Homo sapiens: one gene and its partner. The protein of the gene in region 1 purifies or fractionates together with the protein of each later gene. This does not show direct contact. Each region holds a gene or a part of one and is shown on either strand. Other genes may lie near its edges.

Evidence for each region. The genes of interacting proteins can lie anywhere in the genome.
Region 2: the proteins of FSTL4 (region 1) and KCMF1 purify together in Homo sapiens (affinity purification with mass spectrometry; 2 studies listed by BioGRID and IntAct, with this or other methods). This does not show direct contact.

What each region holds. Positions count from the first base shown.
Region 1 is NC_000005.10:133,609,442-133,616,975, forward strand, and holds the start of FSTL4 (follistatin-related protein 4 precursor), read right to left. Parts: upstream 3,101-7,534; 5' UTR 2,884-3,100; intron 1-2,883.
Region 2 is NC_000002.12:85,051,161-85,058,160, reverse strand, and holds part of KCMF1 (E3 ubiquitin-protein ligase KCMF1), read right to left. Parts: intron 5,014-7,000; coding exon 4,752-5,013; 3' UTR 1-4,751. UniProt on the Homo sapiens protein: E3 ubiquitin-protein ligase which accepts ubiquitin from an E2 ubiquitin-conjugating enzyme and then transfers it to targeted substrates, promoting their degradation by the proteasome.

The sequences.
Region 1 (7,534 bases):
AGCGTGAAACCAGGAGGCTGTACGGGAACCTCTCAAAGGCTTACGACCCTAGTTTTGATATGTGAGTGTTTTAGAAAAAAAGAAAGTGGTACAGATTTCCTAAGACAGTCCCTAAAACACCAACCCAGGGAAATTAGGCATGGAGATATAGCAAGCTAACGTTGCAGCAAGCCCTAATGAAGTTAAATTGCATTTCCTATTAATTATCTACTCTATATCATTAGTTAATTCTTCCCCAACACTTGATAAATTAGATGGCTACATTATTCTATGTGCCATGTATAAATCTCTATTCCTATTTACTCTGACGTTTAACACAGACACACATGTGACTTCCAATAACCTTTATCCTTACAACCTTCAGCTCATACCTCTTAAGAACCACATGCTCTTGATTGCAGTTCTATTTTATTGGAAATTCCATGCCTTATGTTATGCATTGAGACAGAAAATGTAAAGAAAGATGTGCTCTTGAAATATCTAATTGCATTAAGCTAGGAAGCACACAACTAACCGCACATAAGCAACTCAAGAAGGTTGAGTTTGCAGAGAAACACTCAAACAAGGCAAGGTAGGAGTTAAGGTAGTTTTATGAAACAATGACTATTCAATGCTAGTCTCTGAATATAGTGTTAAGTCAAACAAAAGATCATAACGTGAAGGTCACATTTAAAAAGTCCTACGGCCCTTAGTAAAAGGAAAAAAAGTCCTCAGTGACTGACTGGTCATGGTGGAAAAATCCAACCTCCTCTTCCCTCACCCACCTCCAGGGCACAGCCGAAAGGATAAAAGTTCTCCTAATACCCAGAAAAACAAGCTGGCCTTTTCCAGAAGAAAAAGAGCTTTCCTAGAATCAACAAAAATTGAGGATGATCATAAAAGTCTAAGAGAGAAAAAAGCACTAGGACAACTCTAACGAGCAATTTAAATACATTACATCAAAGTGGACTATTTTCTTATGTGAACTTTGGCTCAGTCTGAAGTCTTTGGAGAGGGTGGTGCCTTTTTTTCCTAGGATGGGAGGGAAAAAGCGAACATTTAGCAGAGTATGGCAGAAATGGTCTAGTGATGCTGCAGTGCCTCCTTCTCACAACGCTAAGATGGGAAGCAGACACGTGCCCTGTAGGGCATCTGCTCGTATGTCCGGCTTGAGCTCCTGCCTGAGAGTTGCTGTGGCTCTGGAGTCTCAGAAGCTGCATCACTCACACCTCCGACCATTCCCTTCCCAGGTGGACCCCCCGCCAACCAGACCCAGAGTCTGTCCTGGGGGCCAGAGGGGCAGGCACAGAAACTGGCGCCTGGCTCCCAGGATTAAGAAGACACTATTAAAAAGCATCGCTGGTTTCCCCTAAATTTGGCAGTAGGAAAATAACTTAGGACTTTCAAGAAGAGTCCTAGTCGCTCACTGATCCGTCTTTTCCCCTCACAGATTGTGACACAGGCCCATTCCCGGTGAACATTTTGGCTGGCAGTTACTTCACCACCTATTGAAATTCTGTTTACGTTTGGCCCAGAGAACCTGGACGGATGTTTGTATCTCGGGGGCCCCATCTAGTACAATTCCTGGTGCACAGGCTTGCAACAAATTTACGAAGGTAACAGACCAAGCTGCCGGCGCTGTTTTTCACTGGAGGAAAGCTCGGCGGAAGCGACACCTAGAGGGGAGCGGCGGGCTGTGGCCGCGCCATTCATCAGTGTCGGCGGCCCGCGGCCGCGAGCGAGGGCTGCTGGACAGCGCCCCGGCACCCGCTCTCGAGCCGCGACACCGACCTCGCCGGGCCCGCCCCGCTGACCCGCGCACTCCTAGTGCACTTGCCGCGCCGCGCGGAGGCTCGCCGCGCTCTGGAAAACAAGAAACCCCACTGCCTCGGCGGCTTTCCGCTCCCGCAAGAGTTGCGGGCACAAAGTCCTCAGGTGGCAGGCCTGGGGTTGGCGCCGCTTTGTCGGCTGCAGGGAGCCCCAAAGACTAGCGTCAGCTCGTCCCCAAACTCGAGGCGACAGGCGCCGAAAGCAGAGTGCTGTGCCTGCCTCGTCCAGGTCCCTCCTGAAACTCAGAACTCGTCTTTGTTTTGCGGGCGCAAAGAGGGCGGAGATCATCCACAGTGCAAGCTCTCTTAGGACCAAGCCCCCAGCCCGAACGCTGAACGCCCCCAACACACTGCTCCCTAGACACGTTCAAGCGGGTACCCCGGGCCGCTCACTCTGGACCGCGGCCGGCTACGCACAAGCAGCGCCGCAGGCTGCCTGGAGTCGGGTCGTGCCCTGATTCCTTCCTCCCCAGCCTCACATGCGGCGGACCCCGGGGAAGCCAGGGCCAGGCGAAGCGCAGCGGGCCCTTTGGGCTGCAGCGAGGAGACGCAAGTTTCCCCGCAAAGCCGCGGGGAGGAGGTGCTGAGAATGCCTGCCCGGCGCCCCAACCCGGAGCCAAGGGCACCGGGCCCGGGCCGAGGGGCCGCGCTCGCCTGGCTCCGCCGGGGCCGCTCGGGGTCCTGAACCCAAGAACGGCGCCTGCAGGATTTCGGAGCCGGGCGCGAGCTGCGGGCTCGGCCCGAGCGCTTCTGCGTGGCGCCCCGCGTGCCAACCGGGTCACTCCGGTCCCCACCGTAGACCCCGGCCACGAGCCTCGGCGTCCCAGCCTCTCCTCGAGTCCTGGCCTTGGCCGGGGTAGCCCTGCCGAGCCCTGGCCCAGCGGTCCCTTCCCCGCGGGCAAACTTGGCTTTCCCGGCGCGGGCAGTAAGGACAAGCAAGCGCCCGCGCCGGGCCCTGCAGCAAGATGCGGGGCCGCGGGCGCCAGGACCCCAGTGGGGTGCAGCGGGACCGGCTGGTGGCGGCGCCAGCGACATGGCACCCTCCCCGCGCCCGCTGGGAGCTGCGCCCGCGTACCTGAGACGGCCGGGGCCGAGGGGAAGACCAGGTGGCCGGACTTGGGCGGGAGGGAGGGAGCACCCCGTGGCGGCGGCGGCGACCCCGCCCCGCGTCCTTCGGCTGGTTTCTCGGGCTGTCGGCGGGTCCCGGGCTCGCTGGAGGCTGTTGAGGCTCCAGCTCCCTGAGCCGCCGCTGCCCGCTGCTGTGCCACCGCCGCCGCGGCTGCCCTATTTCTGCCGCCGGGACCGGAGCCCGTGACGTCACCCTCTGGGCCCCGCCTGCCCAATCGCCGCCACCTGTGCGCGCCGCCCGCCCGCCAGCCGGTCAGACCCGCGCGGCGGCCACGGCAGGTGCGCGGAGCAGGCGGGCGCGCACGCGGGGCGCGATGACTCCGGAGCGCTGGGGCCATCTAGGGCCCGGAGGGAGGAGGGCCAGCGTAGCGCTCCTGCCTCTGGCTAGCGTGGAGCTCGGCAAGTGACAGCCCCTCTTCACCTCTGCTCTCCTCCAGGCTCCTTTCCGGGCCAGGTTCCCCAAAGCTGTGCTCTCCAGGCGCACAGGGGGTCTCTGAATCCGCGGCCATTGCTCGTGGAGTCCAGGCGGGCCGGTACACCACAGCAGGAGAGCTGTCCCTGGGGACAAAGTGGGTGAAATCCCCCGCCGTTGAGACCCAACAACCTGGGAAACAGCAAAGGTTTTCTCTTTTCTGAATCTTCCCTCTTCCAACTACAGAATCTTAAGACATTCAGGGCATACAGGGGCAATCCCAAGTGACATTTGCCTACCTGACCTAGCTGGGCCCAGAGGGTCCCTTCTCCCTTAGAACAGGATATTTCCCCATCCTGATCCCATCCCCAAGCCTGGGGCTCCCAAACTTTTCTGAATCCCTCTTTAACATCAGCAGCTTTTGAGATCAGTCTTCCTTCCCGAATGAACTGGAAACACCTTTGTAACAACTAGGGGCCCATAAATGGTCATACGTAGCCTCAGTCTGGCAGGAAACTTAGGAGGGAGCCCCTACCCAGGCCAGGCTGATGGCCAGGAGACTTTCTGAGGGCCTGCCTCCTGCTCTGGCTGCGTGGGCACCAGGGGCCTTCCTGGCTTAGGTGAACAGTGTTCTGTCCATGCCTCTGTAATCTCTCCTGGCCGGGGGGAGGTGACAGAGGGGATTTTTCTGAGGATGAAGTTAGTTAAATATAAGGAAAAGGGGAAGAATAATGGAAGGCTGACCTGAAGAAAGAGATATTACGTTTGTTTTTTCCTTCCACAGATTTTCCTGCCGCTGAACCCCTCCAATGCAGCAGGCACTGTGCTATTAATAGTTGCTAGAGATACAGCAGTGAATGGGCCAGCGCGGTCTTGGCATCACACAGTTTTGGTCTGGGGTCCAGCTCTCCCTCTATCACTGCCAAGCTATGTAATGCAGAGCCAATCGTATCTCTACTGTAGGTATCAGTTTCCCCACTTGTAAAATGAGGGGTTGGACAAAACCTGGTTGACTTCCCATGTGGATACCATGATTTTTACTCAGAAGGATAAAGGCTACTACATCCTCAGTGACCCTGGGCCCTAGCCAGTGTGATCCTCTCTCAGATTTGACTATGAATCTTTGCCAAGGCCACCATGACTGAACTTCTGGGGCTGGCTAGGGGCCAGATTCTCCATGGCAGGACTGGGGAAGGGATGGCACTTTTCATCTTGGGAAACAGAAAAGAGAAAATGAGTATAAAAGGAAGCAGGGAAGTTTGGAAATGTGCTGTGCCTCCCTCTGAAATGTAATTCTAAGTCTGTGGTCAGGAACGTACACCATGGCTTAGAGGCTGGATTCGGCTCTCCTCTAAGACATGAGGTATTTGGAAAAGCAGATTTCTATTCTCAGCTCTGATCACAAAGTCCCTGAGTCAACCTAGTGGCCTTATTACATAATCAAAGCAGGACTTTGTGTATTTTTTGTTTTTTAGTAACTCAAGGTCATATGTAAATCAGGGTCTATAGGTTGACCAAGATCAGAAATAGCTCTGTTTAATGCAGTGAACAGGCACTGAACTTCTACACGCTTCCCAAAGAAGGAGAAGAAGGTAGTTGCTGCAAACCAGATGTATGGAATATTCCTTAGAGAGAATGCTAACATCTGAAGTGAGCTGTTTAACTACTGTGCATAAAATAAGAGTGAAATTAAAAGTCACCTCGGAATGAGAAAGGTGAAGTGTGAATGACAAAATAAAACAAGGCTCCAGGGAAGCAGCATCAGATGCCAGTAACCTTGACACCTCTTTGAATTGCTCTGTGCTTTTACCTCTCAGTGTAATTTTTTGTTTAATAGTACACCCCAAATTGGAAAATAGGCTAGATTTCACACTGAGAATTTCAAAATTTGCCTGAAACCCTGTTTCAGAACTTGCAAGCATACTGATTCTCAATAGCCAACTAGGATTCTTAGGGGAAATAATGGTTAAGTTTTGAACTTCATGTAATTCAATAAGCTTGGAATAGGGGAGCTAAAAGGAAACATAAATTCCAGTTACTGCCCCCCAGCCCCACTCTGTTTTTGGTGAGTGGTTCAGCCAGAGACACACATAAAAACATTATTAATATACTTTTACAAGATCAAAAAGTTTAAGCAACCCAAATATTTTTTTACGTTGCTGGTTTAAAATCTTTTTTCTATTTCTAATCCTTACCAAAAACACAACAATATAATGAAAAACTACTGCCAAATGATGTGTGTCTCTTAGGACATTTCAGATTACACCTGCATATCAGGATACTCAGAGATGACACATAGCCATGGGAATCAGGAGGAAGCAAGGCACTTTCTCCAGATCCAACCAAAAGTATCTGCATCACTAACTGTGGGTCAGCTTACCCTTGGGAGTCCCCACTAGGCTGGTCAAACAGTGCCTAGAAATACCCATTAGAAGCCAGACTGGGAAGTCATGTGAGAAGGTGGGAAAAGGCAGGAAAGAGTCTTCCTTGTCTTGCATAATTTAACGTTCTGCTGCCTGTTCAAAAAATGTTTTTGTAAATCTTCAAACCAAACCATGCAGTTTACTGAAGAGCCAGCCCTGTGCTTAGGAGAGCCCTGGATGGGAGGCACAAGGATGGGGTCTCTCTCCCGCCTCAGCCTCTAGGGCTCAGTGAGCCTGGGAGAGTCACACCTTTCCCAGAACTTGTTTTCTCTTAAGTGGGAATTGGGAATGGGTACATGGGAGGCAGTCATACTAAACGACATGTCTAAGGCCATTTTCAGTTCTAAAGGTCTATGCCTTTATTTTGCCTGTATTTATAGAAGTTCAGTTATTCTGATCTAAACAGAGCTATGATGTTGAAGTTTTCCTCTAAGTCTAATATTAATGCTTATTTTTAAGATGATAATTCATTAATCACCTAGAAATTAAGGGAATGTAGGCAGTAAGTTCAAGATCCTAGACTTAAGATTACACATACATAATTGTTTTTAACTTTATTTCAGGGAGAAAAGTAGCTAGCATGGAGATAAGGTATTCATTCAAGGGACAACTGTGATTGGGGAAATTTTTCGAGACAAAGAAGAAGTGGTATAGAGTAGGAATTTTAATGAAGAAGTTGGGATAAATGAGAAGATGCAGTGATGGAAAGGGAATTGTGAATGGTAAAAATGGAGGGAGATGAACATAAAACCCTCACCATGGCATTGTTACCAAGGCAAATTCCCAGCAAACTCACAGGGGCTGGATTGATGGCACAAGGGGACCAAGAAAGGTGCTGATAACAGGAGGAAACTGAAGTCTGCTACTCTTAAGAATGTATTGTTTACAAGGGATAATTGGGGATGAGATGGCCAGGCCTACAGCCACAAACTATCATACCCTACTGAGTATAGGCAAAAGGGATGAAAGAGGGAACATATTAAGAGGAGAGTGAAAAGAGGGGCCAATTTCCTTTCTTTGAAAGGGACAACATAATTTTTATCATGACCCTGTTTTCCAACTCACCAGTATAGAATCATAAATAATGTGAAAATCTAAATCTATCTATCTATCTATCTATCTATCTATCTATCTATCTATCTAATTTTAAAGGTGAACTGCTACCTTAGGGAGCTTCCATTCTTTCTTTTCCTCTTCTTTTCTTTTTGAGACAGGGTCTTACTCTGTCACCCAGGCTGGAGTCCAGTGGTGGGATCACAGCTCACTGTAGCCTCAACCTCCCTGGGCTCAGGTGATCCTCCCACCTTAGCCTCCCAATAGCTGGGACTACAGGCATGCACTACCATACCCAGGTAATTTTTGTACTTTTTGTAGAGACGGGGTCTCCCTATGTTGCCCAGGCTGGTCTTGAACTCCTGGGCTCAAGTAATTTGCCCCACCTCGGCCTCCCAAAGAGCTGGGATTACAGGCATGAGCTACCTGGCTGGCTGAAGCTTCCATTCTTCTAAATAAACGTTCCTTTCAAATGAATATGCAGTATTATGATGGGTCACCTCAAGGGCTATGAAGACAACTATCCAACCTTCAGGGGTATAAGATGGTACTGGACTTAGTTGATAGGCCACCCTAGATCTGAGCAGCCATTCTGACCTCTTTGACCCTAACCTGGACCAGGGCTTTGGACACTTACTTGTCTTGCTTCCTAGCAAGAGTGGCCCTATTAACTGTTCCATGCCATCTCCACAGTCTTAGAGCCAGTTCCC
Region 2 (7,000 bases), on another chromosome or scaffold:
CCGCCTTGGCCTCCCAAAGTGCTGGGATTACAGGCGTGAGCCACCACACCCGGCCCCACATGGGTTTTCAAATCAGCCATGTGCAGCCCTCATCCATATCTGTGCACTATCTGTACAGCAAGTAAAGTTACCTGGGACAGTCAGACTTAAGGGTTCTTTTTAATTGATCTCTTTAGTTGCTGTAAAGTTAACTGACTTACTAAAGTTAACATGAGGACTTGAGAGCATTCTCCTTTGTGATTTGAGGAACCCATGTTATTAGGCATTACCCACCTAATAGCAACCGACTAAAATGTGACGTGGAGGTTCAGGATCAACTTCTCTGAGACGAATCGTCTTTCAAAACTTGAATTTGCTAACCAAGTTGAGGAAGTGGCAACAAACATCAAGTCACATTTTATTCGAGGTCTGCTGCAGGGTTCCTTAAATAACGAATGTATGCATTTATAGAACACTGACAGAAATGGGTTGAAAAACTACAGAAACCAAGAGGCAAGAGTACGAATTAGAAACAAACGTTGTGTAAGCACAGTTGAAGCCGATAAGCACAGGGAATTAGATTTTTATACTATTCAGAAAAACAGTCACTTGAATTTGGCTTTGGAATACCGTAATGACTGACTCAGACATAGCCATGTTTAATAGCACAGAATTTCATGACATCGTCACAACCTGAAAGTCTGCAGACTGCTGCTCCATCCTGCACTCTAACCCTAACCTCTACCCACTCCAGGCCAGGCATAGGGTTTCAATTACTGTTGAGGCTGAAATGAGATGAGATGAGAGGCTCCTCCCCAGCCTCTTCCCTTCCACCTGCCCACCCCCATCCCACTTCCGGTCTCAAGGAGAGAACTGTTTTAGTGTCTAGTTGAGCTTTAGAAAGAGCACAGATAACCGTAACTGTTTTCCAGCATGAACACCAACTTTCGCGTATAATTCTGGGATAATTTCGTACCTAGTGTTTTAATTTTTTTTTTTTTTGAGACAGAGTCTTGCACCGTCGCCCGGGCTGGAGTGCAATGGCGGCGTGATCTCAGCTCACTGCAACCTCTGCCTCCCAGGTTCAAGCGATTCTCCTGCCTCAGCCTCCCGAGTAGCTGGGATTACAGGTGCCTGCCACCATGCCCAGCTAACTTTTTGTATTTTTTAGTAGAGATGGGGTTTCACTATGCTGGCCAAAATGGTCTCAAACTCGACCTCGTGATCCACCCGCCTCGGCCTCGCAAAGTGCTGGGATTACAGGCGTGAGCCACCACGCTCAGCCGTGTTTTAATTTTTACTGCACATGAAACCAATATTGCATGTGCCCCTTAAACTGTGCATGCAAACTAAGAAACAGGCATGTCATATATAGTAAACACGGCTGCAGGGCTTCTCTACAAAACTGTTAAGAGCTTTTAGCACCCATTCCTCCATCACACTTAGTTTTTTACACATGCCTGTATCAGTAAGCCATATCAGACCCCACTTACAGTAGACTTAATATTGGTACTGAACACTGTTACAGGAATCCCATTCAAAAGATTCTTTTCTGCAGCCACCTGCTACCGTAACCTCTCTAGTATTCTCCTTCTACCCCCCAACCCACTTTGTCCTTAACTAGAGCTATGAACTATTGATATATGTGCTTACCCCAACATCCATGGAGTAAATATATAAAGCGTTAATATTTGCAGTGAGGAGCCTAGCTTTTTTCCTGGAAACTAAGGCTTGGACGTATCAAGAGAACTCTGAACCTGTTACCCGTTCTTTTAACTGTGGCCCACAGACCGGAAAAAAACACAAAAGCCTTGGTGACCTTTGAAAATCTGTCAGCATATTATTGAAATTTCTAATATTGAGAGGGAAAATGGGGGGTGGGGATAATGGGCTGGATTTTTTTTGTTACGTCTATTATTTCTAATAGTGTAATCTGCTATCCTACTTCATTTCTCTGGGGGCCACAGGGAGAGAAGTTTTCTCTTACTTTACCTGAGCCTAATTATAAGAATCCACTACTTTGTTAGTAGCAAACCTAGGTTCTACTTCTGTGGATTTTTTTTTTTTTAACAAAACAATGCAATATAAATACAAAGATTTCACGGTAGCCAACCACAGAAATTCTGTCTTATGATTGCAGCCATACAAGGAAGCACAGTTATTTCTACTTGTTCAGAGCTGAAATTAAACTTCTTCCAGAGCACCTCGAGGGGAAAGATTTAAATGATTTCTAAACAGGAAGTAAAGACAAGCACTGTAGAACATTTATAAACTTATATCCTAGACACTCAAAACTCAACGAAACAAAAAATTCTCAAAATTCAGGATCTGGTCCTTAGAAATTTGAAGGTGCTGCCAAAATAAACAGTGGTATATTTTGATTTTGTCTCCATCAAAGTCTTTGCAATTAATTTTTATTCAATAGTACATCCAGTAATAAGATTTTCATTCAGAAACTAAAGAAAAAGGACACAAGAATTTCAAGGGCTTGAATATATTTTTATATTGATATTCTGTGTCGTTCTACCCTAAAATAATACATTATTGATTACATACAGGATGAGGTGAGGTATTTGTAAAATATCTGGTAAAAAATAATTAATATACAGTATTCTACATGAGATGGAATCTTATGACTCCTTAGGTCTTCTGCAGTGTTAAAAGTGATCATCTAAATTAAACTGCTCTGAATGGACTTACAGTTGTTCCCTAAAACCATGTTAAAAAATGAAGGCTTTTACATTTTCCCAGAATTTGTGCAGAAAAGGGAAAGTACATATAATTGGCATTTATTTCTCACATCCAAAATAATGCATTCACACAAAACCAGGATCTCCCATGTTTAGCATAAAAAGAAAAAAAATACTGGATTAGAGATATAAAATCTCAGAGTAATGGTTAGGTTAATCCACTAACACCAAAGAAATTCAAGTGGTCAACAGTCTTGAAAATGCTTTATTGAAATGTGTGACTTATGTGCAGATGTGTTTGAAAGACCACAGCTTGAAAACTGATTTTTGAAACTTCTCAACAACCAAATGAAAAAAAATGAAAATCCCTAATGGGCTTGACTTCTAGTGTAACCAGAAGCCTGGTGTAAAGTTTTCCTTTAAACATTATCCATTACAGAACTAAAGAAAACAAAGCTATTGTATTTGGAAATCGTTGGAGTTTGAAGTTTCAGAGGAGAAGCAACAGTTTTTCAGACATGTAGGGTGACTTCTTTTTTGGTTACATTTGGATGAACATGGACTTCACAGTTCTCGGAAGAACACCGGAGGGGTGTTCAAGTCTGTATGCTTGTCATGTTGAAGAAACGGAGATACACGGACAGGAAAGGAAAAGGATGACAGGAGAAAGAGAGGAGACTTTGAAAAGGGCTCAGAGAAAAGAGAACTGGAACGAGACATGATTAGGTTAAGTCTAGTTATAAATTTATCAGAAGCTGTGCGCACCTTTTTAAAAGTCCTAAATTTACATTCCAAAAACTGCCCTCCCAACCCCCAAACCCGCTGTCCCTGCCTTGGAGCTATTGTGAAAGTCTATGCACAAAAACTGAAACAGGAAATAAAAAATAACCCGGCCCTTCCAAACCCCAAAACAAACCCAAAAAAAGCTGTACATTTTTTTTACACATAGGATTAATAATATAGGCATATAGGTGGCATGATTCAATTAAAAGGCTTTACTTTTTATGCCAGAAAAAACCCAATAAATAAAAGGTGCTAAAATTAGCATTAAGAATTTGGTTGTAATATACTGACAAATCTGGGAAGGCAAATCCTCAAAGCTCCCCTGATACTGATCTGTCTCAGCAAACTACAAAGCAAATACATAAATAATGCAAAATATGATTGAGAATGTGAGATTTTTAAAAACAAAGACAACATAATTCAGGTTAACTCTGTTGAACAGTCAATAAATGAAATTCATCTACACCTGAATAAAACATATTTAACAATTGAAAAAATTTTAAACAACCACAAAAAGTAAAAACTTTAAACAAACATGAACAGGATTTGTTTTTAGGGCACACAAAGGCCCCTGCAGCAGATTCCAACAGTAGCTTTACTGGTGTGTCTTCTACAGATGAGTTAAAGAGACAGGCTGAGCTCCACACAGGCAAGATGACTAACAGGGCGACAGGACAGTCACACAGGGCGGAGTGCCACACCCGGCTATAATCCCCAGATTCCACTGCAGAGCTGGCTTTGTGCGTAGGAGGCACACAAAGAAAGGTGATTCAGGCAGACATTATTCAAAAGCTACTTCGTCGTGTAACCATTGAATAATGTTTGGGAAAGCTTTGGGCTTTGTATTTTTTTTTTAAGTTTTACTCCTTGTATTTAACTTCTTAAATAACAAGGTCACTAAAACTCATGCACGCTGCAAAAAACCTCATGCAGTAGTTAAGGTAAACCATCCAAGCAGTTTTTATTCATTAATATTCATAAATACACACAGCAGCTTCATTAGAGATTTCAATTTTCCTCTTCAGTTTGAATGTGGAGTATTAGGAGAGCCTTTTGCATGTCAAGGTACAGGAAGCAGAGATCACCCCTGCACTGCTACCTACATTTACCTGCTAGAAGTAAAAATTAGTTAAGTGGAAATGATTATCATATATATTTTCTCTCTTCCTTTTGAATGTACACAATGTAACAAGAGTGACAGACCTGAAATTACAATCACCAAACAAACCCAAGATAGTTGTTGTCCACTTTCATTGGCAAATACAGCACAGAGGACATTGTCTGCGAATTGGGATGTCATCAAAGAGGAGGTGGTGGAGGCTCATTTCCTTTATTACTCTCTTTTAAATTTAGGTTTTCTAAAGCAACATCTAAAGGCATAATATCTACACAGCCCATAGCACCAAAATCTGCCATCTCCCCCCGATCATCCTCATCTGAGGATGAGCTCTCTTCACGCACTAAAGTGGACAGAAGGAGCTCTTGGACAAACAGGCTGCGGTCTGCACGCTCGCTTTCCATGGACTGGCGCTCCGTTTCAGACATTTTAGGATCATTCAACCTGTGTAAGTTAAAAAGAAAAGACCTTATTGTTAAAAAGTCAATGAACAATGGCATGGCCAATTTCTACAGTGCTCTCCACTGTGAAGTTTTACAGGTGGCAAAATTCAGAATGAGACATTGCTGGAATACTTGGCTGTAATTTATCCTTAATTGTGTTGAGACGAATTCCCCACACTTGTTGCAATACTGTTACCTGGAGGTGCAAATCTATGCTTTAATTAGACTCAATGAGAAAAAAAAAGACATTTAGACTTTTTCCACTCCAGAGAAAGCTAGGTGAAAATTTTCTAAGGAAAACAGGATTTCTTACAGATTAGATGCTTGGGAAAGTATCTAACCAGAATTTCATCTGGGGGTAAATAAAAAGAGGAAAATAAAACACAAAAACAAAATCTGCAGTGAACAGAATATTCAACTGAAAAATATCCTAAGATTTCCTCTGACTTTTCTCTATTACTCTATTTAATTCTTCTTGGTATATGCAGAAGCTAGAAAGGGCAAGAAAACACATACATACAAACTCCTACATTTCTTCTACCAAGGACCTACAGTGTAGCAGGGCAGACACAAGGTCTACCTGCCTGACTTGCTCCCCTGATGCATGTACTTATGAGATCTGGGCTATGCTGGGAAACCTGGCTCATCTGCACAGAGACTAGACAAATTTCTTGATGAAATATAACATTTAGGATATAAATGAAACTGCAAGGCTTGTGAGGATCTTCAAGTTGGGGTTAGCAAAATGAACTGGTCCCACTGTCAAAAGATTAGATCTGGCCAGGCACGGTGGCTCATGACTGTAATCCCAGCACTTTGGGAGGCCAAGGCGGGCGGATCACCTGAGGTCAGGAGTTTGAGACCAGCCTGGCTAATGTGGTGAAACCCCATTTCTACTAAAAATACAAAAAATTAGCCAGGTGTGGGGGTGCGTGCCTATAATCCCAGCTACTCGGGAGGCTGAAGTAGGAGAATCGCTTAAACCTGGGAGGCGGTGGTTGCAGTGAGCCGAGATCGTGCCATTGCACTCCAGCTTGGGCAACAAGAGCGAAATTCTATCTCAAAAAAAGACCGATCTGACTTACACACTCCAATAATCACTTTCTAAAAGGTCAACTATCTTGGACTTCAAAGAAACTGTGACCTTACCATCAGTTGCAGGGCAACATGAATAGGAACTGCCCCTGGTCAAAGAAAAGACCAAAAATAAGGCTTGGGCCCTATATATATCACATAAGAGCTGTGTGACCAGAGAGCAGGATCTCCCCTGCATACACTGCAGCCGTTCTCCTTGCCTTGAAAATTCACAATGCATGTTAATATATTTGAAGTTCTAAGAAGCCCAACAGTAAATAATCTCTTAATTTTCCTTACTTTGCTTTCTGCAACCTTATTAATTGGGGGTGGAAGAACATAAGTAATTACATATATTCCTTTGAATATATGAAGTTAAGAGAGTATTTCTGGGGAAATATTGCCTTAAATAAATCATATGAATATAATACAATAAAAGATGTGGAAAGTGGTTTGCAAACTGCATGGTACCATAGAATGTACAGTATCAGATGATAGAAGGGGGATTTCAAGAAGCTACAACCAGAATCCACAGACAGCACTCAGAGGTCACTCATACCATGCTCTGAGAGTTGGGTGTGGAATAAATGCACAGAAAAAAATTACAGATCAAGCTGAGTAGTTTGGGTCTTAAAAAAAAAAAGGATAGGGCAAGGGTGGGTAGGAAGATGTCTTTTCCAAAGGGCACTGGCAAGACATTCCACCCACAGTTCTGTGAACTCTCAGTAGAAATGCACGCTAGTAGATCTCCTTTTTGAGGTAGGGACTTAGATCTGGTATGTTATAGACCTGCTGCTGGTCAGTCCCTATGGGGAAGGCTACATGGCAGCAGGTAGCTCCATCTGTGGCTCTGTGGTTTTCTTACATTAAAGCAGCATTATCTGGTAATAACCAGGCACAGTTACTGACCTTGC